Linked DNA regions of Homo sapiens. The protein of the gene in region 3 interacts with the protein of the main gene of each other region in a biochemical or structural test. Each region holds a gene or a part of one and is shown on either strand. Other genes may lie near its edges. The genes, in order: PLG, CFD, SERPINF2 and KLK13.

The links.
Region 1: the proteins of SERPINF2 (region 3) and PLG form a complex in vitro, tested with the Homo sapiens proteins (2 studies listed by BioGRID, with this or other methods).
Region 2: the proteins of SERPINF2 (region 3) and CFD form a complex in vitro, tested with the Homo sapiens proteins (one study listed by BioGRID).
Region 4: the proteins of SERPINF2 (region 3) and KLK13 form a complex in vitro, tested with the Homo sapiens proteins (one study listed by BioGRID).

Annotation. Positions count from the first base shown.
Region 1 is NC_000006.12:160,705,241-160,712,264, reverse strand, and holds part of PLG (plasminogen isoform 1 precursor), read right to left. Parts: intron 5,859-7,024; coding exon 5,723-5,858; intron 4,566-5,722; coding exon 4,459-4,565; intron 1,189-4,458; coding exon 1,074-1,188; coding exon of another isoform or gene 1,070-1,073; exon of another isoform or gene 393-1,069; intron 1-392. UniProt on the Homo sapiens protein: Plasmin dissolves the fibrin of blood clots and acts as a proteolytic factor in a variety of other processes including embryonic development, tissue remodeling, tumor invasion, and inflammation. In ovulation, weakens the walls of the Graafian follicle.
Region 2 is NC_000019.10:855,113-862,675, forward strand, and holds the start of CFD (complement factor D isoform 1 preproprotein), read left to right. Parts: upstream 1-4,551; 5' UTR 4,552-4,577; coding exon 4,578-4,632; coding exon of another isoform or gene 4,633-4,653; intron 4,654-5,504; coding exon 5,505-5,661; intron 5,662-5,748; coding exon 5,749-5,893; intron 5,894-6,586; coding exon 6,587-6,844; intron 6,845-7,563. Other genes in the region: ELANE (neutrophil elastase preproprotein), read left to right, coding at 452-682, 846-1,052.
Region 3 is NC_000017.11:1,745,869-1,752,892, reverse strand, and holds part of SERPINF2 (alpha-2-antiplasmin isoform a precursor), read right to left. Parts: coding exon 6,984-7,024; intron 5,875-6,983; coding exon 5,731-5,874; intron 5,585-5,730; coding exon 5,381-5,584; intron 4,296-5,380; coding exon 4,153-4,295; intron 308-4,152; coding exon 103-307; intron 1-102.
Region 4 is NC_000019.10:51,055,114-51,062,104, forward strand, and holds the end of KLK13 (kallikrein-13 isoform 1 precursor), read right to left. Parts: intron 5,507-6,991; coding exon 5,320-5,506; intron 4,981-5,319; coding exon 4,712-4,980; coding exon of another isoform or gene 4,677-4,711; exon of another isoform or gene 4,632-4,676; intron 3,562-4,631; coding exon 3,425-3,561; intron 1,663-3,424; coding exon 1,474-1,662; 3' UTR 513-1,473; downstream 1-512.

The DNA.
Region 1 (7,024 bases), on a different chromosome or scaffold from region 3:
AGGTTTTATTTCTGGTTCTTCTGTGAACCTATTTGGGATAACCCCCACCCCCCGAGACCTCAGTTCCCTCATAAAGATGAGCCTAGACTACCTCATAAAAATGGCCCAGAGTGTCTCCATGGCCCCCGATAGTCTCTGACTTTGCCATTTGGTTGAATCAGTTTTCATTAACTCACGGGGAATATTTGATCTGCTCATCTCATAGGGATATAGCAAAGGCAATTTGTTGAGTGTTGGGGGAATGGATAAAGGTGAGTAACAAGCACTAAGTTCCTATTTGATAAGCGTCATTACTGAGAACTTAATGCCACCTAACACCAAACTGGGAAAAGTACAAAAAAATGCACTAAAATAAATAATAGGCAAGTTGCAACATTTGAATTTCACGTATCTTCATTTTCATTTTTATATCTTATTTACTCTTTTGCTCCACAATTTGAGTCGAACATGTGATGAGAGTTCTAACCTGATATGCTTACTTCAGTCCCAAACATAGTCATCTTTGATCTTTTCTCAGATTTGGCCTAAAACTCATAGTTTCATTGATTTTTTTTAAACTAGGCATTCTTCTATGTTCTAGGTCTTCAAGAAACCTCCATATCCAAGAAAAAATAGAAAGCAACCATGTTCTACTATGGTGCCAAAAATAGTTGAACATCGACATCAAAAAGATTCTTTCTATCTGCTTATTCACATATTGTGGTTTGAATTAAAAGTGATGAAATTATCCTAAATACAGTTGGCCCTCTGTATCCATGGGTTCCAGATCCACAAATTCAACCAACTGTGGATGGAAAAGACTTGAAAAAGATGACAGAAAATAACAATATGACAATAAAACATAATACAAATAAAAACAATACAGTATAACAACGATTAAATAGCATTTACATTATATTAGGGATTATACAAGAGAAGGTATGTAGGTTATATGCAAATACTGCACCATTTTATATAAGGGACTTGAGAAGCATGGATTTTGGTAGCCACAGGGGTCCTGGAACCAATCCCTCACAGACACAGAGGGACAACTTTACAGTAGATGAACACAAAGATGAAAGGGAATGTCTTACCTAGGTCTGTGGGGAGAAGTGGAACTCCATTTTTGACAGGTGATGCCATTTTTTGTTTTGGACATCGTCCCTCTGTAGTTCTTTCCATTCCCAGTCTTGCACTCTGAGAGATACACTGAAGGGAAGTCCACACAGTGGTCAAAGTCTTTCACAAGACACCACATGAAGGTCTGCACAGCATAGTCACGTTGAGAAAAAGATCTCATGCACCAGACCCCCTGTTTCTGCTTTCTAAAAGATCATCTTTTGCATCTGCAAAAAGGCTGCAGTAAACTGAGCCATTCTTTGATTCATGTATTCAAATGCTACTTATGAGCTCTCTGTGTATCGAGCCCCACCAGGATGCTGGGGACACACGGGGCACAGTGCAGCCAGAGGCTTGGCCGTCATGGAGCTTACATTCTAGTGGAATCAGGCAGGGGGGTTACAGGAAATATTCAAGGAAACAATATAAAATGAGATCACTTAATGATGATACATATTACATACATGATGAGACAGAGTGAGAGAATGGGGAAAGGGCTTTTTAGATGGGGGAATGGCAGGCTTTTCAGAGGCTGAAAGAGATCCAACCCACTTCTATTTCTTCAGGCTCCCAGTGATATGAAAAAGTGCCAAACAGGGCTATAAAATTGTGGTCTACTGTAAATGGTTTGCAGTAAAAGTTCTCAACCAGCTTCCACTCAACCAACTCACCAGTTAGACAACGGGCCCTCTCCTGTGTTTAAAACAGTCCGGTGCCCACCTGGGTCCACATGCAGCTGGCAGGTGTTTGCTAGTGTGCCCACCCATGTCTGTTCCCCCCACGTGAGTTATGTGCTTACAACGAGTCATTTCTTTGCATTTTCCAACTTTCTTACATTTATATTTAATTAAAGATGATCTAAACTGAGAAATGAATGTGAAAAGAAACAAAGCTCTTTTTTGTTTGGTTTTTAACTAAATTAAATGTTTTTAACAAGTTGAAACATGAATCATTTAAAAAATTGCTATCAAATCCACAGAGGGCAATCCACTCATATAGTTGACTATAAAGCTTGAGGAGGAATTCATAAAAATCTAAAGGTTTTACACATTCAGATTGATTAATAAATGTCGAGATATGGTCCACTTCAAAAATAAGGAAAGTAATTATTGTAGATGTTGCACTGGAGCATAGTTTATGCAGGAAATACACCAGAGACCTTCTACTGGTGACCCCATATTCGAAGAAGAAAAGCCTCTGCTCTACGTCAAAAGGTGTCAAGTACACTTGTGTTTTCAATGAAAATATAAAATGTTTAAGGTATATTTACACCATCATTTAAGGTTACCCACTTTAGCCATTTTTTAATTAATTGATCAATCACATGGGGAAAGTGCTCCTAACATACCTACAGCAAACTAATGCTTTTAACCCAATACTGCGTATTATGATTGCAAGTACATCTTCATTGGGACATAGTATTACAGTAGACATAAGACACTCATCAAAAGTGTAAACTCAAGGTACTTTGTGAAAGGGAGGTCTAGGGGTCAAGGAAGATTTGCAAAGGACATGATGATTGAGCTGACACCTAGGAGATAAGAAGGAGCTGGCACAGCAGGACAAAGGTGAAGAGGGTCCCAGGCAGGAGGGTGTGTGCTTGGGGTGGTGAAGGAACAGAAGTAAGGCCAGTGTAGAAAAGTTTAGCAAGCCAAGCAAACAGCAGCTGGGGGTTACTTAAATAATGCTGGGCCCTAGCACATTTGGGAAGTCTTTGGGTCTTATTTTAAGGGCACTAGGAAGGGCTTTAAACAGGGAAGTTACATTTCTTAGAGATCATGTGTACAGCTACAAGTAGCCCCAACCAGTGGTGATAGGGTCTTGGACTTGGTGAAGGCAGTGTGGCTGGTGGCAAGTGGCAGAAGTAAATGTGATCTAACACTGACTGTTCCTGGCAAAACCCTGGCAGGTAAGTTAGTAGCAGGTCAATATCCCACAGCAAAGAAACAAGGACCAAAAAATGACTGACTTTTGACTTTTCACTTCTTTTTTTTTTGTATGTACCCATCAGAGTTTATATAACCTTTTGCTCCCTTCTGTCACTTTGAAAACAAGCAAACTAAGCCTTCAAACTTCAGACTTCAAACTCAACCTACAGTCATTCCCATGTTCCTTCTGGTTAACAATTTACAAATGACATATTTAAATGTTAGCATTTTGTAGAGAGAATCAGGAGAATCAGGGTTTTTTTTTTTTAAAATCTGGTACAATTAGGTGATCCTATTTAGTTTACCGTTTGCTTGCTACTTGTAAGAACTAATAACTTCACCAGATAAAGTTTAGATTTAATCTGCACTTTAATCTCAAGAATTCGAGATAAATAGTGGTAAGGAAGGAAGTACAATGCGTACAGCTAATGAAACCCAGGAAGATGAGTCAATGCATAGAAATAATTCCAACCCAAATAAATACTATTTAAAATGCTACTTAGAGTTTTGCCGTAATACTAGACACAATATGGCAAATCATCCTCAAGAATACAAGAACTAAGGTGTTTCCAGTCCTCTTTAACACCTGGGATGCAGAATGTTTGGAGAGCTAAATTGTTACTATTAACAGTCTTAATACCTGGCTACCAACACAGTAGAGGAAACAGTTTTTAAAGTGTCATGCATCCCTTCAAATATTTATACTTGATGGGATATGCTTAATGGGAGCATACTTGATGGGATATACTTGATGGGAAATGCTTAATGAAACATTTGCACATCTAAAAAGGCATGCAATTTCTATTGAAATCCTGTCTGCCTCTTATTCTAAGCAGTGGGACTATTGACCCACATTTTAAAATAAACTATAGAAAAGGAACTGTAACTTTTACACATTTTTAAAAGACAACATTTCAGAAATCTGAGAAAAATATAGACCATGTCCCCCAAAATGTGAAAAATTTAAGAGTAAAAATAAGATTTGTGTCCCAATCTAAATGTTTCTGAGGATTAAAACACCTCAGTATTTCTGTTTTACAAGGCTTCATCCAGATGTTAGGGCCCAAGGACCATGGTCACCCTGCAGAATAAGAAGCCAAGACCAAAAGGAATGCTTAGACTTCCCATCTCCTTGTTAAATATAAAATAATATTTTAAAAATCTTATTTTCAGGGTCATAGAGGTAGAAGTGATTTTGTAAATCTAATCCTTTCATCTTTTGAACAAAAAAAATTAAATCTAAGAGGTGAAGTAATACACTCAAGCTGACATGGTTAGTTAGTAATCAAATCCTGTCCTAACTCAGAATTCAGTTTTATAACACGATAGTGCCTTCCTCCTCTGGTCTTATAAATTAAAGATAGAATAGAGAAAGAGGAAGAGTGGGAGGATGGGGAGGACAGTAGGAGGAGGAGGAAGAAAATGTACTCACCTTTCTTTTCAAATAAAACTACATCTCTCATCCTAATGATTATGGAGGACTTCCTGTTTTCAGCCATTATCACACATTGTTGCTCTTTACTGTGATATTGGAATGCCCTGCAGAACGAAGCAGGAAATCCAATAAGTATTTTTCTTTATTTAAAGAAAACAAATGTTTATTAATAAGTGAGACATGCTAAAGATCATTGAATATCTTGAGGGACCAGAGAGCTCAGAATTGCTGCCTCTTTCAGTTATTTGGGCATGGCATCGATGAAGTACTGAACAAAATACACCAACGTGGCAGCAAATCTTATCTGCCCTTACCTTCCCTCCCTCATAATTTTCCCTTTCTTCCTGTTTCAACTGCTTTACTTCTTCTTCACTCATCTTCTTAATTTTTGTTTTTGGGTTGGAAAGAAGCAACTCTGGTTGCTTTGAACCCATTCGCCAAGATAGTCCGTCTCCATGACCTCCCAACTCTGATCAGTTCCCCTGAACCTCTGCTCCACATTCCACCCCACCCTGGCCCCTGACCCCTCCCATCTCCATCCCGTGGTCCTGCTATGGGTGCTCAGTCTGGATTCCATAGCTACCTTCCCAAGCCCGTCACCTACACAAAGTCTCTGCTTTAGTCAACTTCATCTCTTAATGGTCCCCCTCAGAAGGTGCAGGGCCGCATCTTCCCCTGCCTTCCTGGTGCTTGTCAAGAGCTCTCTCAACTCCAAACCCAGCTCAGTTCCCACCTCCTCCCTGAGCCTTCTCTAGCTGCCTCAACCTTAGGCACTGTTCTTTCTTCTGGATCTGGGTAGAGCATGCATTGATTATGCCTGTACCTCACTTGGGCTGTCTTTTTTTTTTTTTTAACATTATATCCAGTTTCTTTGACTACACCTTAAATACTAAAGGGCAGGCACTGGATCTTGTAGCTATAAGTCATTGCTCAGATCTATCTAGGACACTTTCATTCACCTGATCCTCAACAAACATTTACTGATGATGATGTTGAAAACTGGAGCTCAGAACAATAACTGCTAATGTTTGTGTCCGGTGTAAAAACAAATAACTTCCTTTGAGGGTATTTTTCTAACAAAGACTCCAATAAACCTTAACAAGAAGCTGTTAGTATGGCTTCACATACTGTGAGCAAATATAGTTCCAAACTCTGGCTCCATAAATTTCTCTTTCCTCTTAAATCATTAATAAATTTGTGAGTAAATTACTTGCCATCTGAATTACAGATTCCTGCGTAGGTGCAACGACAATGGAAATACCTGCAGGTGAATTCTTCGTCCTCCTCACATTTTGCTGCACATTCTTCTATACTTCCTGCTCCCAGCTGCTTCTTAGTGACACTGAACAGTGAAGCCCCCTGGGTATTCACATAGTCATCCAGAGGCTCTCCTTGACCTAGAGGTGGGAGATCCAAGTGGAATAAATGGTCAGTAAATCAATGTCAATGTCTAATTGTCATGACTTCCTTTTAATCTATTTGGTTAGCATTAACCAAATAAAACTTTCTGTTTACTGGAAGTAGAATGGGTAGCTATGAATCAAAATGTTTAGTTAAGAACACACAGTCGGGCATTTGGACATAAATAAAGATGGCAACTAAAGACACTGGGGACTACCAGAGAAGGGAGAGAGGGAGCAAGGCAAGGGCTGAAAAACTACCTATTTAGTAGGTATTTAGCTCACTACCTGGGTGATGGGATCATTTGTACCCCAAAGCTCAGTGTCACGCAATTTAGTTATGTAACACACCTGCACATGTACCCCTGACTCTAAAAGTTGAAATTATAAAACAAAGAAAAACAGTTTCATTAGCAGATTGCAAGATAGTAAAAGATTAACTGGATTGACAAACAGGTTAGAACTATGGAACCACTACTATGTTACCATATTAGTGGATATAAATCCTTAAACAAGAACAAATTTTATGTTTGCTATTGATTGTGCCATGTCATGAGAGAAGAGTAAGGCACCATCAGTGGCAGTTGTGTTACCAAGATTGATGTTGATTTGTTCATCCCTGGGTAGAAATGGAACTTGGAGGCCATTGTTTGATTTCCTACAATATGCGCTTTGGTTCTGGCACTGTCACTTGAACCGGTGGGAAGCATCCTCTGAATGGTCCCTCCTTGAGAAACATAAATTTTGGTGCATAGATGATGGTGGAAATAAACAAGAACTGAACTAAATTATGTTGCCACCTTGGACAAAAATTGGGCAAAACACTGGAGGGTAAGAAGCTCCCCAACAAAGAAGGCCATTTTTGTACTGGGCTTATGACAGTCACACAACACTACTAATTGGGGAGAAGTCAGTTTTTCCAAGGTGTTGACAGGTATCTGGATTTCGGAGGAAATTGTAAAAAAGCAGGACCTGGGACAAATACTGGTCTTGGTTTTTCTTTGAGATCAAATCTGAGACAACGAATCTGTCCGAAAGCTGCTTTCTGCCTGGTCGTGGCAGAGGGTGGCCAAGGGGGCCTCAGCTGTGCTCCCACCACAAGGCTACAGGGTGTCCCCTTGTCCTGAGGCTCTTCCAGACATCTGGCTGAGCTTTGGTAGCTC
Region 2 (7,563 bases), on a different chromosome or scaffold from region 3:
AAAATGCTGGGATTATAGGCGTGAGCCACCGCACCTGGCAATTTTTTTTTATTATTTTTGTAGACATGGGGCTTTGCCACATTGCCCAGGCTGGTCTTGAATGCCTGGCCTCAAGTGATCCTCCTGCCTCGCCCTCCCAAAGTGCTGGGCTTACAAGCATGAGCCACCGCGCCCGGCTGTAGTTTTTTTGTTAACTGAGCACCTACTGCTTCCTGCACTCAAGCCACATCCAGGGACAACCTCCAACGCCCTGAGCCTTGGTGACGGCTCCCACTCTACAGATGGGGAAACCGAGGCTTGCCTTGGGGAGCAGAGTGTGGGGTGGGTATCCTGCCCTGCAGGATCCCAGAACCACAGTGGAACCTGAGATGGGGAAACTGAGGCCCGGAGAGGGGAGGGTCATCATCACTGCCCCGTGTGACGCGCTGACGATCTGTCCCCACCGCCACAGCTCAACGGGTCGGCCACCATCAACGCCAACGTGCAGGTGGCCCAGCTGCCGGCTCAGGGACGCCGCCTGGGCAACGGGGTGCAGTGCCTGGCCATGGGCTGGGGCCTTCTGGGCAGGAACCGTGGGATCGCCAGCGTCCTGCAGGAGCTCAACGTGACGGTGGTGACGTCCCTCTGCCGTCGCAGCAACGTCTGCACTCTCGTGAGGGGCCGGCAGGCCGGCGTCTGTTTCGTACGTGCCCTGGGTGTCCCTCTGCTCCCCACCCGCTCCCAGCCCGGACTGCAGCAACAGGCACCGTGGCTAGACCCTAGGAGGGACTTCCCAACCCTGACAGGCGGCGGGCAGGTGGGCAGGGCCTCGCAGTCCAGCTTCCCCACCTTGTCTGCCTCCACAGGGGGACTCCGGCAGCCCCTTGGTCTGCAACGGGCTAATCCACGGAATTGCCTCCTTCGTCCGGGGAGGCTGCGCCTCAGGGCTCTACCCCGATGCCTTTGCCCCGGTGGCACAGTTTGTAAACTGGATCGACTCTATCATCCAACGCTCCGAGGACAACCCCTGTCCCCACCCCCGGGACCCGGACCCGGCCAGCAGGACCCACTGAGAAGGGCTGCCCGGGTCACCTCAGCTGCCCACACCCACACTCTCCAGCATCTGGCACAATAAACATTCTCTGTTTTGTAGAATGTGTTTGATGCTCCTTGGCTGTGTGATTGGGTGTTGAAAATGGTCAGTAGGTCGGGCGTGGTGGCTCACACCTGTAATCCCAGCACTTTGGGAGGTTGAGGCAGGCGGATCACTTGAGCTCAGGAGTTCAAGACCAGCCTGGGCAACATGGCAAAACCCCCGCTCCATTAAAAAAAAATAAATAAATAAAATAAAATAAAATAAAATGGTCCAAGCCTGGCCCAGTGGCTTACGCCTGCAATCCCAGCACTTTGGGAGGCCGAGGCTGGCAGATCACCTGAGGTCGGGAGTTCAAGACTAGTCTGCCAACGTGGTGAAACCCCATCTCTACTATAAATACAAAAAAAATTAGCTTGGCGTCGTGGCGCGTGGGAGGCTGAGGCAGGAGAATCGCTTGAACCTGCGAGGCGAAGGCTGTAGTGAGCCGAGATTACGCCACTGCACTCCAGCCTGGGCAACACAGAGAGACTCCGTCTCAAAAAAAAAAAAAAAAAAAAAAAATACCGGTGCGGTGGCTCGTGCCTGTAATCCCAGCTCTTTGGGAGGCCCAGGCAGGCGGATCATCTGAGGTCTAAAGTTCGAGACCAGCCTGACCAACATGGAGAAACCCCATATCTACTAAAAATACAAAATTAGCCGGGCGTGGTGGTGCATGCCTGTAATCCCAGCTACTCGGGAAGCCTGAGGCAGGAGAATCACCTGAATTCTGGAAGGTGGAGGTTGCAGTGAGCCAAGATCGCTCCATTGCACTCCAGCCTGGGCAACAAGAGCGAAACTCCATCTCAAAAATAAATAAATAAATAAATAAATAAATAAATAAATAAATAAATAAATATAAATAATAATGATAATAATAATAATAAACAACAAACTAGAATCCAGAGTCTCTTGGGCATCTCTGGAGTAAGCCACCACCAGGGGGCAGCACAGCCAGGGCAATGGAGCAGAAGTGACTTCCCCACATTGTGTTTTTTTCTTTTTTGTTTTTAGATGGAGTCTCGCTCTGTCGCCCAGGCTGGAGTGCAGTGGCGCGATCTCGGCTCACTGCAAGCTCCGCCTCCCGGGTTCACGCCATTCTCCTGCCTCAGCCTCCCGAGTAGCTGGGACTACAGGCGCCCGCCACCACGCCCGGCTCATTTTTTGTATTTTTAGTAGAGACGGGGTTTCACCGTGTTAGCCAGGATGGTCTCGATCTCCTGAACTCGTGATCCGCCCGCCTTGACCTCCCAAAGTGCTGGGATTACAGGCGTAGCCACCACGCCCAGCCCTGTTGTTATATCATTTTCTATTCTCTGTGCGTATGAAATAATCCACAGGGGGCCAGGCATGGTGGCTCATGCCTGTAATCCCAGCACTTTGGGAGGCCGAGGTGGGCGGATCACCTGAGGTCAGAGGTTCGAGACCAGCCTGGCCAACATGGCAAAACCCTGTCTCTACTAAAAATACAAAAAGTTAGCCCAGTGTGGTTGCTCATGCGTGTAATCCCAGCTACTCGGGAAGCTGAGGCAGTAGAATCGCTTGAACCCGGGAGGTGGAGGTCGCAGTGAGCCGAGATTGTGCCACTGCACTCCAGCCTGGACGACAGAGCAAGACTCTGTCGCAAAAAAAAAAAAAAAGCAAGAAAGAAAGAAAAAAAGAAGGAAAGAGAAAGAAAGAAAGAAAAAGAAAGGGAAAGAAAGAGAAAAACAGAGAAAGGAAGGAAGGAAATGAGGCTAGGCGTGGTGGCTCACACCTGTAATCTCAGCACTTTGGGAGGCCGAGGCAGGCGGATCACGAGGTCGGGAGATCGAGACCATCCTGGCTAACACGGTGAAACCCATCTCTACTAAAAATACAAAAAATTATCCGGGCGTGGTGGCGGACGCCTGTAGTCCCAGCTACTCCGGAGGCTGAGGCAGGAGAATGGTGTGAACCCGGGAGGCGGAGCTTGCAGTGAGCTGAGATCGCGCCACTGCACTCCAGCCTGGGCGACAGAGCGAGACTCCGTCTCAAAAAAAAAAAAAAAAAGGAAAGAAAAGAAAGAAATGATCCATGGTGAAGAGAAAAGCCGGGGGAACCTCGTGTGCTGCTCCCCCTGGGGACAATGTCTGAGGTCCTCCCCACAAGGTATCCCCATCCTTCTGGTCCCCGCACCATGGATTAATGCAACGTGAATCCCGCTGGCCCCTGTGGGGCAGATGTGAAAAATGGAGCTACACCATGAGCAGGCCTGCAGTCCCAGCACTTCTGGAGGCTGAGGTGGGAGGATCACTTGAGCCCCGGAGGTCGAGGAGGCTGCAGTGAGCTATGATTGCACCGCTGCACTCGAGCCTGGATGAAAGAGCAAGACCCTGTCTGTAATAAAACAAAAACAACACACACAAATCCCCACCTCACAAAAGGCCCTATGGCCCAGATTCTGAGAAGTATTTTATTTTAATTTTTTTGTAGAGATGGGGTCTCGCCGTCTTCCCCAAGCTGGCCTTGAATTCCTGGGCTCAAGAGATGCTCCTATCTGGGTCTCTCAATGTGCCGGGATGGTAGGTGGGAGCCACTGTGCCCGGCCAGCCCTGACTCTGTTCATCAGAACCTGCCCTCAGTGAACAGTTTGGGAGGGGGCGTGTGATCCAGGCTCCACCAACCCAAGGCACCCTTGAGACTTGGCTGGAGTGAGGAAGAATTTTAGGAGGGGCCCACTGAGCCACTGGGTTGAGTGTGGGGTCCCTGGAAACACACCAGGGGAGGCTGGTGAGGAAAGAAGCCATCAGAGAAGAAAGGAGAAGCCAGAAGCAGACACTGGACATTGTTCAGGCACCTGGATCAAGCCACACCTGAAGGCGGACATCCCTGAACTTTCCATATAACTTTCATGATTCAGGCTCCACCCAGTTTGTCTGGGTTTTCCTGTCCCTTGTAGCCAGTCTTCCCAGCTGCCTCTGCCTTGGCCTTTCCAACTTTCTATTCGTCAGGGTGTCAAGCCCCAGAGGCCACAGGGACAGAGACAAAGGTGTCAAGTGACCTTCCTACCCCCAACAGACCTTCTCTCTAATATAGAGGAGGAAAAGAAGGGAGGGTAGCAGGACAAGAAAGTGGGTTGTTTACACGCTGTGGCCTCCAGCTAGGATTGTGAAACACCCTGGGGGACTCTGGGTGTGGTGAAGTTGGGGCCGGGGTGGGTGCAGCCCCCCTCTCTGCCTCCTGCCCATCTGAGGGACTGCCCCCCACCAGGGCCAGCAGGCTGTCAGGCTCACAGAGGCCCGAGGGTCTCCCAGCGACTTGTCGACTCTGGTGTGAGTCTGGCAGGAGGTAACCCAGTCCCGGGGAGGGCGGAGGCTGGGCGGGCGAGTTCCCCTTTCCCCAGCTGGGCCGCTGCCCACCCGGGGAGCGGCCCGCCCCCTCCACCCTCATAAAAGCACCCCCAGGGCCCTGCCTGGGTCAGTGTCTCAGCCACAGCGGCTTCACCATGCACAGCTGGGAGCGCCTGGCAGTTCTGGTCCTCCTAGGAGCGGCCGCCTGCGGTGAGGAGGCCTGGGCCTGGGGTGAGGGACAGGGCTGTGTAGGGGCGTGGTGCTCCCTTCCGTCACACGGACGGTCCTCCAGCCCCTCCAGGTGGGCAGGAAGGGGGTGTCTCTCCTCACTAATGGAAGGCTCTGAACGCTGAAAAATTCTAGAAAATTCAGATTGGAAATCGGAACTTTCTGGAGTCAGCTTTTCTTGCAGACAGAGTCTGAACGTCTGCGTGGAAAACTTCATCTGCGTGGCTGACTGGGCTGGCCCAGGCACTGGCTGGGTCAGCCCCATTTCTCTTATGTCCAACTGGAAGGCACTGCGCCCAGGGTAGGGCGCTGGGATCTGCCCCCGGTCCCCAGCCCACTGTGGGTTCTGTACTCTGGGGCATTCCCGCCCGAGGGTATCTGAGTTTGCAACGCTGAGGGGCCCCAAGACGGAAACGGGATTCTTTTTTTTCTTTCTTTTTTTTTTTGATAGGGAGTCTCGCTCTGTCGTCCAGGCTGGAGTGCAGTGGTGCGATCTCGGCTCACTGCAAACTCCGACTCCCGGGTTCAAGCGATTCTCCTGCCTCAGCCTTCCGAATAGCTGAGATTATAGGCCACGCCGACTAAATTTTGTATTTTTTTTTAAAGTAGAGACGGGGTTTCACCATATTGGCCAGGCTGGTCTTGAACTCCTGACCTCATGATCTGCACCCCCCCCTCCCCCCCCGCCCCCGCGCGGCTTCACAAAGTGCTGGGATTACAGGCGTGAGCCACCGCGCCCAGAGATGGGATTCTTGCGGGGAGCGGCCTGGGGGGTGAGAGCTGGGATCCCGTCAGGCAGCCTCGCCCGGGGGAGGAGTCCACCCCGCGGCCCTCACGCGCCCGCCCACCCACAGCGGCGCCGCCCCGTGGTCGGATCCTGGGCGGCAGAGAGGCCGAGGCGCACGCGCGGCCCTACATGGCGTCGGTGCAGCTGAACGGCGCGCACCTGTGCGGCGGCGTCCTGGTGGCGGAGCAGTGGGTGCTGAGCGCGGCGCACTGCCTGGAGGACGCGTGAGTGCCCGCGCCGCGCGGGGGAAGAGCCCGGGTGCGGTGGGGGGAGTCGGCTGGCACCGACCGCGGACTCCGTCCGGTCCCCAGGGCCGACGGGAAGGTGCAGGTTCTCCTGGGCGCGCACTCCCTGTCGCAGCCGGAGCCCTCCAAGCGCCTGTACGACGTGCTCCGCGCAGTGCCCCACCCGGACAGCCAGCCCGACACCATCGACCACGACCTCCTGCTGCTACAGGTCGGCCCCGTGTAGCGCAGTCCCTCCTGCGGCGCTGGGATCCCCGGCCCACCCTCACTCCACCCCGCCTACACCGCGCCCCGGGTCCAGCCTCGACCTCTCCTGCTGCATGGGGACCCCGCCCCACAACCCCCACACCCTCACCCCGGGTCTAGCCTCGACCTCTCTTGCTGCGCTCGGAGCCCCCCCACCCTCTGCACCCTCACCCCGGGTCCAGCCTCGAACTCTCCTGCTGCATGGGGACCCCGCCCCACAACCCCCACACCCTCACCCCGGGTCTAGCCTCGACCTCTCTTGCTGCGCTCGGAGCCCCCCCACCCCCTGCACCCTCACCCCGGGTCCAGCCTCGACCTCTCCTGCTGCATGGGGACCCCGCCCTACAACCCCCGCACCCTCACCCCGGGTCTAGCCTCGACCTCTGCGGCTGCACTGGGAGCCCCCCACCCCCCGCTCCCCCTGCATCCCCATCCCGGTTCCAGCCTCGACCTTTGCAGCTGCACTGGTGAGCCTCGCACCCACCCCATCCCCACCTGCACCCCCACCCAGGGTCTAGCCTAAATCTCTCCTGCTGCACTGAGACCCACGCCCCTGCCCTGATGCCCACCTCCCCCGTCCCGTCTCCCCGAGCCTAGCGGCATTCTCCCCAGCCTCGCACCCCCGCACCCCAACCCTGACGTCCGCCTCCACCCTCAGCTGTCGGAGAAGGCCACACTGGGCCCTGCTGTGCGCCCCCTGCCCTGGCAGCGCGTGGACCGCGACGTGGCACCGGGAACTCTCTGCGACGTGGCCGGCTGGGGCATAGTCAACCACGCGGGCCGCCGCCCGGACAGCCTGCAGCACGTGCTCTTGCCAGTGCTGGACCGCGCCACCTGCAACCGGCGCACGCACCACGACGGCGCCATCACCGAGCGCTTGATGTGCGCGGAGAGCAATCGCCGGGACAGCTGCAAGGTGAGCCTTCAGGCCTGGGAGGAGACGCGGGGCCTGCAGGCCCCGGGAAGGGCCTGCAGAGGGAGCGCGAAGCGGGGGGCAAGTAGGAACAGGGCCCAGGGAAGGGGCGGGGCGCGTAGGGGGCGGGAACTGGAAGATGGGCGGAGCATGAGGGTGGCCCGTGGGCGGGGCCTGTATGAGGGGGCGGGGCATGTGGGTAGGGTGGGGCCTTGGGGGCGAGGCCTGGAGAAGGTACGGGGCCTCTGGAGAGGGTGGGGCTGAAGAAGGGTCAGGGCGGGCAGAAAGGGCAGGAACGGGTGGGATGTGGAAGGACCTGTGGGTTAGGGTGGGAATAGGGGGCGGGGCTCGAGGAGGGGGCGGAGTCCAGTAATAGCGGGACTGCAAGGGGGCGAGGCCAGGAAGAGGGTTGGGGCATGAGGGGCAGGGCATGGAGGAAGGGGCGGTACCTGTGGGGAGGGTGGGGCTGGAGAAGGGTCAGGGCGGGCAAAAGGGCAGGTGGCAGAGAAAGGGTGGGAGGTATAGGGGGCGGGCACGTGGAGGAAGGGGCGGGGCATGGGGACGGGGCGGGGCAGGTGGAAGGGGCGGGAACCTCTGAAGGGGCAGGGCTGGTGCGGAGCGGGATCCCTGCTGTGGCAGGGAAGAGAAGGGGTCCTGAGCAGGGCAGAGGTTTAAGACCAGCCGAGGCTTGCATGGTAGCCGGGGCCAAGATTGGGTGGGGC
Region 3 (7,024 bases):
CACAGGACAGCTCTGACTCAGCTCCACTGCCAGCCAGACGCTTCCTCCTTACCCGCCCTGCCCAGCCTGACCTCGGGGGCTCGCCCGCACCCTCCTCCTTACCCAGCTGGCTGAGGGTGGCCACCAGGTCCATTTGGTGTTTCAGATACAGCTTAGGCAGCCGGACCTTGGTGGGCCTCTCCCACACCAGAGGTGGGTGCAGGGTGTCCCAACTCAGGTTGGCCAGTACCTGGGACACGTTCCATTCAAAGTGGGTGGGTACAAGGACCACAAAGCTCATGTTGTTCTTAAAGGGGAAATGAGCCACCTACAGAAAAGGGAAGGGAAGAGCATGAGGACAGAAAGCCCCGAAGCTAAGTGGGGGTGGGGCCAGCAGGTGCTCCTAAGGCAGACAATGGGGCTCCTGGCCATCCTGCCAGGCGTGTGACTGACCCCACTGCTCCTCCACTTCCTCACAGTGGGGTGGAGTCATACTACCTGTCCCACTGCAGGCGGACACGTAACCGAATGAGATGCTTTTAAAGTTTCTAGCAGTGTGGCCGGGCATGGGGGCTCACGCCTGTAATCCTAGCACTTTGGGAGGCCGAGGCAGGCAGATCACCTGAGGTCAGGAGTTCAAGACCAGCCTGACCAACATGGCAAAACCTCATCTCTACTAAAAATACAAAAATGAGCTGGGCTTCTGTGGTGACGGGCGCTTGTAATCGCAGCAACTCGGGAGGCTGAGGCAGGAGAATTGCTTGAACCCGGGAGGCAGAGGTTGCCATGAGCCAAGATCAAGCCACTGCACTCCAGCCTGGGGGACAGGAGTAAAAATCCGTCTCAAAAAAAGAAAAAAAACAACATTGTAGCAGTGTCCGCTGTCACAGACGGTGCTCAATAATACCTGGTGGTTTTCTCTCTTCACCGGCTACCAGCTGGCCGTGTGACCCGGCGTAAGGAATCGCCTGTCTTTGTCTCAGCTTCTCCAGATGTACCACAGACAGGGTCACTGGCTGTCATACCACAGCTGGGTTCTGTGGGTGAGCCACTGCCGAGTGCTGCCCGCCCCACCCTCCCACACCTCCCTCTTGTGACTTTGCCAGCTGTGTAAATATATTGTGATTTGGCTTAAGATTTCTTTTTTTTTCTTTTCTTTTGAGTTGGAGTCTCGCACTGTCGCCCAGGCTGGAGTGCAGTGGCGCAATCTCGGCTCACCGCAACCTCCGCCTCGTGGATTCACGCCATTCTTCTGCCTCAGCCTCCCGAGTAGCTGGGATTACAGGTGCCCGCCACTACGCCCGGCTAATTTTTTGTATTTTTAGAAGAGATGGGGTTTCACCGTGTTAGCCAGGATGGTCTCAATCTCCTGACCTCGTGATCCACCTGCCTTGGCCTCCCAAAGTGCTGGGATTACAGGCATGAGCCTGTAAACCACACCCAGCCTCTTTTTTTTTTTTTTTCAAGACAGAGTTTCACTCTTATTGTCCAGGCTGGAGTGCAGTGGCATGATCTTGGCTCACTGCAACCTCTGCCACCCGGGTTCAAGTGATTCTCCTGCCTCAGCCTCCCGAGTAGCTGGGACTACAGGCGCTCACCATCTCACCTGGCCAATTGATGTATTTTTAGTAGAGACGGGGTTTCACCATGTGGGCCAGGCTGGTCTCAAACTCCAGACCTCAGGTGATCCACCTGCCTCAGCCTCCCACAGTGCTGGGATTACAGGCGTGAGCCACCGTGCCCAGCCATTAAGATTTGATTTGAAGGGATTCTGCAGCAAAAGCAGTGTGGACACCACAGGGCTCGAGGGCCTCCTGCAGCTGTGACTCCTTGGGTTCCAGGCAGAGTACCCGTGTGGAGAACCCCTGCCCGTGGGAGGATAAGCCCCGGGTTCTGGCTGTTTGGGCCTGTCTGCAGAGGGCCTGAGGACAAGAAAGGCTGACGGGGCCTAAGGAAAGGAGACGAAGGATGAAGGAAGAGTACGCAGGACACAGCCTGGAGGAAAGGGGAAGCAGGAAAGGGGAGCCTCGGGGAGGTGGATCAGACTGGCCTTTCAGAATGAGCTGCAGGGAAGCCAGGACGCGTTCCCGGGCCAGCCTCACCCACAGCCCCCTCCCAGGAGGGCTGCCCAAGTGGCTTCTGGCTCCTCCCTGCAGAAGTGGCTGTGCTCTGTGTCACACTTGCCTTGGGAAGCTAACAAATACAGCCATCTCAGCCACAGCTGTCTGGCCCGGGGATCAATACCCAGGCCAAGGGGACCACATTTAGGCTAGAAGCAAGAGAGGCCACACCTGAGACAGCCTGGCACGGAATTTTATCCAATCAGAGCTGGGCGCAGTGGCTCCTGCCTATAATCCCAGCACTTTGGGAGGCCAAGGCGGGCGGATCACTTGAGGTCAGGAGTTTGAGATCAGCCTGGCCAACATGGTGAAACCTGTCTCTACTAAAAAAAAAAAATACAAAAATTGGCCGGGCACGGTGGCTCACACCTGTAATCCCAGCACGTTGGGAGGCTGAGGCAGGCGGATCACGAGGTCAGGAGATTGAGACCATCCTGGCCAATATGGTGAAACCCCGTCTCTACTAAAAATACAAAAATTAGCTGGGCATGGTGGCGGGCGCCTGTAGTCCAAGCTACTCGGGAGGCTGAGGCAGGAGAATCCCTTGAACCCGGGAGGTAGAGATTGCAGTGAACCGAGATTGCACCACTGCACTCCAGTCTGGGCGATAGAGAGAAACTCCGTCTCAAAAACAAACAAACAAACGAACAAAATTAGCCAGGCGTGGTGGTGCATGCCTGTAGTTCCAGCTACTCGAGAGGTTGAGGCAGGAGAGTGGCTTGAACCCAGGAGGCAGAGGCTGCAGTGAGCCGAGATCGTGCCACTGCACTCCAGCCTGGGTGACAGAGCAAGACTCTGTCTCAAAAAAAAAAAAAAGAAGTTTATCCAATCAGAATGTTCCACGCAAGATGCTGAGAAATCCAATCCAATCAGATCCTCCTTTCTAAGGAGCACTGTGTGAGCGCCCCGTGGAATCTCCCAGGCTGGGGGCTGCAGAGACCCTGAGTGGCTACATGGCCGTGGGGTGGTCCCTGTGCTGCCCCAAAGTCCATGGGCCCTTGTAATAAACCCTTATCAACAACGGTCACCTGAGTCTCAATTCAATGCCCCCTCCTCACAGAATTCTCCCTTACCACTCTAAAATGCCTAAATAAGGCCAGGCCTGGTGGCTCATGCCCGTAATCCCAGCACTTAGGGAGGCCGAGGTGGGCAGATGACCTGAGGTCAGGAGTTCAAGGCCAGCCTTTGTTTTTTCTGAGTCGGAGTCTCAATCTGTCTCCCAGGCTGGAGTGCAGTGGTGCGATCTCAGCCCACTGCAGCCTCCGTCTCCCGGGTTCAAGTGATTCTCCTGCCTCAGCCTCCAGAGTATCTGGGATTACAGGCGCCCGCCACCATGGCTGGCTAATTTTTGTATTTTTAGTAGAGACGGGGCTTTGCTATGTTGGTCAGGCTGGTCTCGAACTCCTGACCTCAAAATCACAGCTCACTGCAACCTTTCCCTCCTGGGTTCAAGTGATTCTCCTGCCTCAGCCTCTGGAGTAGCTGGGATTACAGGCACCTGCCACCACGCCTGGCTAATTTTTGTATTTTTAGTAGAAACGGGGTTTCAAATCTTGGCCAGGCTGGTCTCAAACTCCTGACCTTATGATCCACCTGCCTGGGCCACCCAAAGTGCTGGGATTACAGGCGTGAGCCACCGCTCCCGGCCAAAATCACCTTCTTTTTCAGCTTTCCCTCCACAGCGCTTCCCAGCGTCTGGAATTCCTGTGTTGATGTCCATTCACTGTTGCACTGTGTATCCTCCTTCCTAAGAGCAGAGACCTGGCCTCCCTCATGCTCCACAAAAACCCTAGTGCTTAGAACAGTATCTGGAACACAGCAAATGCCCAGTATATTTTCACTGAATTACTAAACCTCAAAGAGCCTGGAGCCTCAGTCCTCCTGCCAGGTAGGATGGGGGATCATGGGACCTTTTGCAGTTGCCTGCCTAGGGGACGTGGAGGCAAGGAAGGCGAGACAGCCTCCACCCATCCCTGTGCCTGCTCCACAGCCTGTCCACTCCCTTCCCCACCTCCCAGCCTCAGGCCCAGCCTGCTGGACAACCAAGGGTGACCTGGATCTCAGGCTGCTCCAGCAAGAACCAGCGCAGCGGGTACGTGCGGGCCTGCATCATTTCCACGGGCACCGTGAACTGCTCGTCCAGGTGGAAGGAGTCTCTCTGGGTAAGGCTCGGGTCAAACTTGTTCCTCCAGAAACCTGAAACCCAGCAGAGGGCAGGGGTCACGTCGACGGGGACCAGCTTGGGGCAGAGGGCAGGGGTCACGTCGATGGGGACCAGCTTGGGCTCTGCACCCCCAGCCCGTTGCCTGTCCCACCCAGAATCCATTCAAGGATGAGACAGCGGTGGAGGCCAAGACCCCAGGGAATGCTAGCTGGCATCCAATTGATCTAAGGTCTCTTTCCCGTAGCATTTTTGAAATCTGGGCTTGTGTTTTCCCCAACCCCTGCAATTCTCCTAGGAACCTCCTCCTGGATCTTTTTTTTTTTTTTTAGACGGAGTCTCGCTCTGTCGCCCAGGCTGGAGTGCAGTGGCACGACCTCCGCTCACTGCAAGCTCCACCGCCTCCCGGGCTCACGCCATTCTCCTGCCTCAGCCTCCCGAGTAGCTGGGACTACAGGTGCCCGCCACTACGCCCAGCTAATTTTTTTGTATTTTTAGCAGAGACGGGGGTTTCACCGTGTTAGCCAGGATGGTCTCCATCTCCTGACCTCATGATCTGCCCGCCTCGGCCTCCCAAAGTGTTGGGATTACAGGCGTGAGCCACCGCGCCCAGCCCCTCCTGGATCTTTTCAGACCATTTGTTCCCAGGGTATTCACTCTAGAACAACTCATCTGGCTCCTGGGCACCCATCCCCACCACACCCAGACAGCCTCCTGCCTCATGGCCCAGACTGAGGAAGAAAGGAGACCCTCAGAACAAAGCCTGCATGGCCGGGCGCGGTGGCTCACGCCTGTAATCCCAGCACTTTGGGAGGCCGAGGTGGGTGGATCACCTGAGGTCAGGAGTTCAAGGCCAGCCTGGCCAACATGGTGAAACCCTGTCTCTACTAAAATACAAAAATTAGCTGGGTGTGGTGGCAGATGCCTGTAATCCCAGCTACTGGGGAGGCTGAGCCAGGAGAATCGCTTCAATCCGGGAGGCGGAGGTTGCAGGGAGCCGAGATCGCGCCACTGCGCTCCACCCTGGGTGACAGAGCGAGACTTGTCTCAAAAAACAAAAAGGCCTGCACGTCCCAGCTCAGCCTACAGGGTGGGGGATCTGAGAGGAGGAGGAGCGCACCCTGGAAGTGGATGGCGTTGAGGAGAAGCAACACGGTGTCTTCCGGCAGCCCAGAGAGGAATTCCTGAATCTTCCCCTCCGTGGCCTCCTTCACCCATTGGTTGATGTTTGCCAGGTCATCTTCCTGCTTTCCCGTCAGGCTCACGGGCTTTGCCCCAAATAGCTGTTCGGATTGTTCCAGGAAATCTTCTTTGATGGGAAATCCTGCACGGAGGCAGCACAAGCTGTTCCCAGGGCTCCAGGCTCCACAGCCAGACACGCCCCTACTCGCTACCAGAGGCCCAGCCCCTTGCTCTCACCCTCCTCCACCCAGGGCAGGACTGAGGGAGCTCCCTGCCATCAGCGCCTACCTTTCTGCAGGTACATCCTGGCAGCCAGTCGGAACGCGCCGGGGCCCAGGTCCTGGCAGAGGCGGCTCAGCAGATGGGGGAGGCAGGGCCCTGAGCCTGCGTGCAGCACCTGTTGCAGCCTCTGCAACGTGTGGTTCTGAGCACCTGGAGGGCACCGCACAGGCTGAGGCCCGGCTGCGGGTCCTTTCTCACCCCCACTGCCCACTCCAGTCCCTCCTGGATACCCGTGACGAGGACGTCCACGGGACCACACGCCATCCTTCCACAGCCACGGATCTGTTCTGCGTGGCTCTCACCCCTGTGGCTGACAGGCTGGGTGACCTCACCCCCCACAAGTTACCTTCCCTCTCTGGGCTTCCGTTTCCCACAGTGAGACCCTCCAGCACAGTGGGAAAGAGTGTAGCTAGCAAACTCTTGCATAAGAATCACCAGGAGGGGCCGGGCGCGGTGGCTCACGCCTGTAATCCCAGCACTTTGGGAGGCTGAGGCAGGTTGATCACCTTAGGTCGAGAGTTCGAGACCACCCTGGCCAACATGGTGAAACCCCGTCTCTACTAAAAATACAAAAATCAGCTGTGCATGGTGGCTGGTGCCTGTGATCCCAGCTATTTGGGAGGCTGAGGCAGGAGAATTGCTTGAACCTGGGAGACAGAGGTTGCAGTGAGCTGAGATCACACCACTGCACTCTAGCCTGGGTGACAGAGCAAGACTCTGTCTCAAAAAAAAAAAAAAAATCACCAGGAGGACTTGTAAATAAGCAGATTCCCCGGCCCAGTCCCTGAGATCTGATTCACATAGACAGATGGGTGGGGGCCCAGGAATCTGCATTTGTTGTTGTTGTTGTTTGAGACGGAATCTTGCTCTGTCACCCAGGCTGGAGTGCAGTGGCGCCATCTCGGCTCACTGTAACCTCCAACTCCCAGGTTCAAACAGTTCTCTGCCTCAGCCTCCTGAGTAGCTGGAATTACAGGTGCGCACCACCACGCACAGCTAAATTTTTTGTATTTTTAGTAGAGAGAGTTTCACCATGTTGGCCAGGCTGGTCTTGAACTCCTGACCTCGTGATCCACCCGCCTCAGCCTCCCAAAGTGTTGGGATTACAGGCGTGAGCCACCGCCCCGGCCTAGGAATCTGCATTTTTACCAAACAGCCACGTGACCCTGGTGGAGGAACCGCCCGCGGAGAACCATTGGAGTACTGAGTTCCTACTGGCCTCCCAGCTCTCTTGGTCTGGACAAGTGGTGCCAGGGTACCTAGTGCCAGGTGAGACAGCGCCAGGGCCACACTCAGGGGT
Region 4 (6,991 bases), on a different chromosome or scaffold from region 3:
GCCACCATGTCCAGCTAATTTTTTAAACTTTTTTGTAGAGATGGGATCTTGCTATGTTGTCCAGGCTGGTCTTGAACTCCTGGTGTCAAGCGATCCTCCCACCTTGGCCTCCCAGTGTTGGTATTACAGGCATGAGCTACCACATATGGCCCTTGTTTCATTTCTTGCTATGGCTTGCAGCACCACCTGACAGCCTATTTCTTTATTCATTGTTATGGAGACTTCTTGAAAAGAATGTAAGTTCTACAAGGGCAGAAGTTTTTATCTGTTTAACTCATTGGTTATCACTTGTCTCTGCAACAGTGCCTGGCTCTTGATAGGTACAAATATTTGTTGAGTAAATAAACTATATTTAACAACACCCAGGAGAGTGCTTGCACATAGTCAACACTGAAGAAATGTCTCCTGAGGAAAATAAATCAGTGCAACACTTTTTTTGGACACTCTGCAAATTCGAAGGGCTGTTATTAACATTCTAAGGTAATATTTTATGGGAACCATGCAAATAATAATAGTGATAAATGCTTGACATTTATTCTTGTAATAATGTTACAATTAAAAAAAATTATGAACCCATTTTACAGATGAGAAAGCACAGAGACTGTGAGTTTTATAACTTGTCCAAAGCAAGGATTTGCACTACATTTTAGGGTCATGCACAAAGATGTAACAGCAAGGGACACTGACCAAGGATGTTCATGGAGGGGATACAAGACGGAATATTTGGTAGACAATAAAGTTCAGGCAAGAAGACCCTTTGGTATACTGAACCCTATAACTCTAGAGACTAGGGTGCCATTGATTCAGAGAGGGAATGTTGGCAGAGGTGGGGTATTGGAAGAATGTGGGATGTAGGTTGGGTTGGGACTTCTGAGACACCCATAACAGTGTGAGAATGAAATATTCTGAGGATCCAATGTTAGCTGTGGTGAGTCACAGAGGTACACAGAATGTTGTCAGGGCAGAAGATTGTGGGCATAAGAGAATATTTTCAGGATGAACTATCATGGGAGTCTAGAGCCTTCTTGAGTGCAAAAAATAGAAGGTCTAGGATACTGGCATTGAATAAATACTTGAAGAGTTAGAGGATGTTGTCAAGGATGGTCCATTTATAGGACATATATTGTTGAGATGGGCTGATGGAAATATTTAAGAATGTGCCACAGACAGAACGTTCAGGTGGTGATCTGGGCTCATAGAAGCCACACTGATGAAGTTGAGAGACCTGGGCCATTGTCTGGGTTGGGACATTCAGGTTGTTGAGATGTTTCAGGGATGCAACATCTGGGAGACTGCAAGCCTGGCAGTGCCTGAATGCTTCTGAAACATGGAATGTTAGCTGAGATTGAGCATTTTTCAGGACATGGATCACTGGTTCAAATGGAACACTGGGAATAAGGAGCAGAGAAGGGCTAAGCAGACCATGTGAGGAAGTCATGGTGACAGGATGGAAGCCGGTACATTTCTCAACTTTTATTGTGGGCCCTTCAACCATTTTTGCTGCTGGGTTTCATATTTTCGGATTGTTTCACGGATCCACAGGACGTATCTTGAGACACGGGTGTAGACACCAGGCCGGTCAGGTTGCCCACATGGGAAGTCTCCCCAGGAGACGATGCCATACAGTGTTCTGTTACAGACCAGGGGGCCCCCAGAGTCACCCTGAGTTGGGGAAAGAAAGAGAGAGAGAGGTGGGTCCTTGCTGGGGCTAAACAAGGCAGGGACAGGGAGGTGTGGGGAGAGAGTGAAAGATGGAGAGAGACACACACAGAGAAGGAGACTCAGAGAGGCAGAGTCAGACACACACAGTGTGAGAGAAAGCAATGAAGACAGTGAGAAACAGACAAGAAGACAAACACAGAGGGACAGACAGCAAGAGACAGAAATAGGGACAGAAAGACAGAGATAGGCCCAGAGAAAGAGAGACACAGAGAAATTTCTGTGTTTTTCTCTGTTCCTCAGTTTCATTAAAATGGTAACAACTTACTTCATACCCATTTTTGTTTCCCTGGTACTAAATCACCCCCTGCCCCACACCAGCTGACCCTGCTCCTATTTAAGGCTCATTTGTGTCTCTCACTATTGAGTGAACCCATTCATATCTGGGCAGGGTATGCAACACACGTGTAAGTCTATTTCTCTTCCTGGGCCCAAGGCAGACATCACTAATCGATCAAGGCACATATCATTAATATAGTATCATACTCTTTCTCACTGAATCCAATCTCAACTTCTTTATTGATGAAGGCTATTTTTTGCTCATGTAGTATCCATTTCCTCTTATTTTTAAAAAATTAAACATTCATTTTTAAATTTTTATTTATTTATTTATTAGAGACAGTGTCTTGCTCTATTTATTTCTTTTTGTTTTAGAGACAGGGCCTTGCTCTATCACCCAGGCTGGAGTGCAGTGGCATGATCATACCTCACTGCAGCCTTGAACTCCTGGGTTCAAATAGTCCTTCTGCCTCAGCCTCCCGAGTAACTAGGACTGCAGTTGTACTCCACCACACCTGGCTAATTTAAAAACTTTTTTTTCTTTTTGTAGAGACAGAGTCTCACTATGTTGCCCAGGCTGGTCTCAAACTCCTGGGCTCAAGTAATCCTCTCACCTCAGCCTCCCAAAGTGCTGGGATTACAGGCATGAACTACTGTACTTGGCCATTTCCCCTTATTTTGGTAACAGCCTCTCCTGATTTTTTCATTTGGGGAACTGCCCTTCTCCACTTCCAATCCATGCAGTTTGTCCCTGCCCCTCTCCAGCACCCACAGTTAACTATGTGACTCAGGCTTGGCCCATCAGAGAATCCCACAGCTCTGGTGGAGTGATGGCTCAAGACACATGACTTAGGTCAGCCTAGTGAGAATCATGCTTAAGACTTTTGTGTGAACTATTGGAAAAGAGAGGTTCTCTTTCTAATAGGGTTGCCTAGAGGGTAGGATGTAAGCTCAAAGCTGCTGGGGCCATCTTGTCATGGGAAGAATCTAACCGAGAATGAAGCCAAAACAGAATAAAGAAGAGCTGAGAGTTAAAAGAAAGACAGAATTCCAAACACACAATTTGCATACCTGGATCCATCTGTGCCTAAAGCCAGACAACCTGGATTTTCAGTTACAAAAGCCTGCATTTTGTTTAAGCCAGTTTGAGTTGGTTGTCTATCACTCACAAGTGAAAGAATACCAACCTTTATGCATCTCAACACAGGGATCTTGGCAGCCACTCAGTCAAAGCTGGGGCTTATGATGAATTATTCCTGCCATCCCTGGGTACCCCTTTTTGTCTTGACCTCCTATGTGAGGGGACATTGTATCTTATAAAGATTGGTTCCCCTAAGGCTGGAAACAAAGCTTTTTCCCCAGCATCTGTCACTTCCATTCTGGCTTTCTATCCTGTCCAAGGCACCCACCAGCCTCCCGGCCTCACCTCACAGGAGTCTTTGCCACCCTCTTTTGTGCCGGCACACAACATGTTGTCAGTGATCTTTCCTGGGTAGACTTGACGACACTCCTCATCTGAGCGAAGTTGGATGTTGGCACATTGTAGAGTTTTGGGGTAATTCACTGGGGAGAAGAAAGAGAAGGTCTAAGGTATCCGACCTGGATAGGATATGGGATGAAGGTGAAATAGGCGAGTTGAATGGGTAAAGAGTAGATAGAAAATTGAGATGGGAAGAGAAAGATGGGAGAAGAGATGAGCACCTATCTGGGTAAAGCAACGGAAGTGACAGAAATATGGAGGGACATGGGAGAGAGGCGAAGGGAGAGATGAGGAGAAAAGTGGAGGGAAGGACAAGGAGGGAAGGGACAAGAGAATGGAAGGTTGATAAGGAGAGTGGTGGAGCCAGCGGTGGGGAGAGAAAGTTGGAGAGAGGGAGTTGGAATAGGGAGATGGTCAGAAATAGAGAATTAAAGATGGGAAAAGCAGGAACAGGGATGGGAAGAGTTACGGGAGAGTTGGATAGAATGGTAGGAAGAGAGACAGGGCATGTTGAGGAGAAAGATACAAACATGAGGCTGGGAGAGAGTCAGGGATTGCTAGGGAGATGCAAAGGGCTCTTGTCGGTATATACATCAACTTTATATTCACATATATAATGTATTATACTTACTAAGTAATGATATAGAATTAATTATTACATTGAATTATTAGACATTTCATTAATAACCATATTTAATATATTAAACATTTTATAAATTATAGAAATATAAACATTTTATATGTATGATTTATATATTATAAATGATAAAATTCATTTACAGTATATAAATATATAAATGTATACATTTATAAAATACATTTATAATATATAATTTAAATATAGATTATATATAATATATACATTATGCAGAAATACATATTTAAAATACATAATTGATAAATTTTATAATTTATAAAATACATTTAATTTGTATACTTTTTGTATAATATATAATTATATTACTATATAATACATAATATACATCATATAATATATTCATATATTAGATCTATTTATATTTCTATATATTCATGAATTTATATACTCATATTTTTATATATTCATGAATTTATATTTATATAAAGGATACAGCTAACTTTAAATATATATATTTATTTACTTATTTATATTTTTATATATAAAGGAACCTACCTCAGACCTTCCCTCCCATCTCTGCCCCTGTTTCCCCAGCCACTCCTATGGGGCCTCAGGCCACCTGTGTGGGTGCATACCCTGGGGGCTGGTGGTGGTGCCCCAGCCAGACACCCGACAGGTGGTGCCAGGGGTTAGGCGGTTGTTGTGGGAAAGGGGCAGGGTTTGGATGTAGCCTGTGAGCTGGACCGGGGACTGCAGCTCCAGAAGCATGATGTCATGGTCGTGGTTCAGGTGGGTGGGGCTTCTCCGGTATTCAGGGTGGGGGATAGAGTGGACAACTTCCCTCACCTGCTCACCAGCTTCCACACGCCCTAGGGCGTGCTTGCCTAGGTAAACTTTGAGCCCCCTGTGGGTGCAGAAAGAAGGTGGTTAGGAAAGAAGATGAGCCCATTTCCATCCCCATCCCAGCCCCAACCTCTTCCCATCCCCAACCTAACTTCTTCTCCATCCTACCTTCCTCATCTCCAAATACATCTCCCCCATCCTCAACTTCAATCCCATCCAAATCCCCTACTTTGATTCTATTCCCATACCCAATCCCCATATCTCAACCCCAAACCTCATTCTCACTCCCATGTCCATCCCCAACCCTAACTCCAACTCCATCCTCAAATCCAACTCTACCCCATCCACAATCCCAGTCCCATTCTCATCCCTACCCCATGCTCCCCCGGCCCCCACATACTCCTTTAGACAGTGTGCGGCAGTGAGGACCCATTTGGGGTGGACCAGGACTCCCCCACAGAGTAGCCGCCCTTGCACTAGTAGGGCAGCCTGCCAGGGCTGAGAGTGGGGGAAGCAGGTGTAGCCACCTGGGAGAAACCCACTGGTCCCATTGGTGTTGAGAACCTTGGAAGACTCCTGGGAGACACCTGGTAAAGAAGAGAGATTGTTAGAAAACTGGGATCCAGGGGGCAGAGGAGCCCTGGGGTTGTGGTTTCTGGGTTTGGGGTAAGGGTCGGATTATTGCCCTGGGTGACCAGGAACTGAAGATGAATTTGCCGACCTATGGCAGTTGCTATTCTTGACCAAGTGGAGATGAATTAGGGCAAAGGGGTGACATTATTTTCTCAGGAAGTACCAAATCCTCCACTGGGGGTTAACAGAAGAGTTCACAAAATGAGGATGTTGCTGATAGGTAAGCAGGAGCCTGACTTTCTCTCCACATGCATTTTTTATATCATTCTACCAGAAGATGGATTTCAGGAGGTAGAAGTGAGACTGACCTACACATCCACCTAGGCAATATCTATCCATCAATCTATCCAATCATCCATCCCCCATTCATCCTATTGATTTGTCCATCCGTCTACTCATCCATCTATCCATTCATCCATTTAGGTAGTCATCTAACCATCTATCCATCCATCCATCCATCCATCCATCCAACCATCCATCCACTCATCTGTCCCTCCATCCACTGGTCCATTTATTCATCCATCCATCCATCCATCCATCCATCCATCCATCCATCCATCCATCCAATCCAACCATCCATCCATCCATCTATCCATATATCCATCCATGCATCCATCCAATCATCTTTCCACCCATCTCTCTATCCTTTCACTGCATATATACTGGTTGCCTCCATGGCTTTAAATACCAGCTATAGGCTAATCATCTCCAGCCCTGAACTCTTCTTTAAGCTCAAAACTCAAACACTGTTGATTTGGATGCCTTACAGGCATCTTAAGCTTTGTATTCCCAACTTGATTCTTCTCAATCAAAACTGTTCGCTCCAGTATTTCCCACCTCAGTGCTCAGCCCCAAACCTGGGAGTCATCTTTGCTTCTCTTCTTTCCTTCATCACTCACAACCAGTTCCTATTGGTTTTATCTCCCAAATATCCAGTTATCTCCACACTTCTGCCACCATCTTGGTCCATGCCCCATCTTCTGTAGCCCAAATGACTACAACATTAACCTAAATCCTTCCACTTTTACATCCCTCCGATCCAGTCTTCTCAAAGTAGGCTGAGGACTCTTCAAACAAAGAAAGTCAGATGTTGTTCCCAGGCTCAACTTTCTTTAAAATAAAATCCAAAAAGCCTTCCCAAGGTGTGCAGGACTCTGTGCTGTCTGGCCCTTGCCAGCCTCTTTGACCCCATCTCCAACCTCTTTCTTCTGACTTCCTCTAGTCCAGCCTCATGGGCCTGTTCTTCAAACACACCAGGCATTTAAAGAAAAGAAGAATTTAAATCATCTTGGATGCCCCCATACTAGACATTTTATACTTGCTATTTCCTCTCTCTGCACAGTCCTTTCTCCAGACCTATGTTGTTTAATATGGTAGCCACTAGCTACATGTGGCTATTTAAATTTAAACTAATTAAAATGAAGTAAAACTAAATTAAA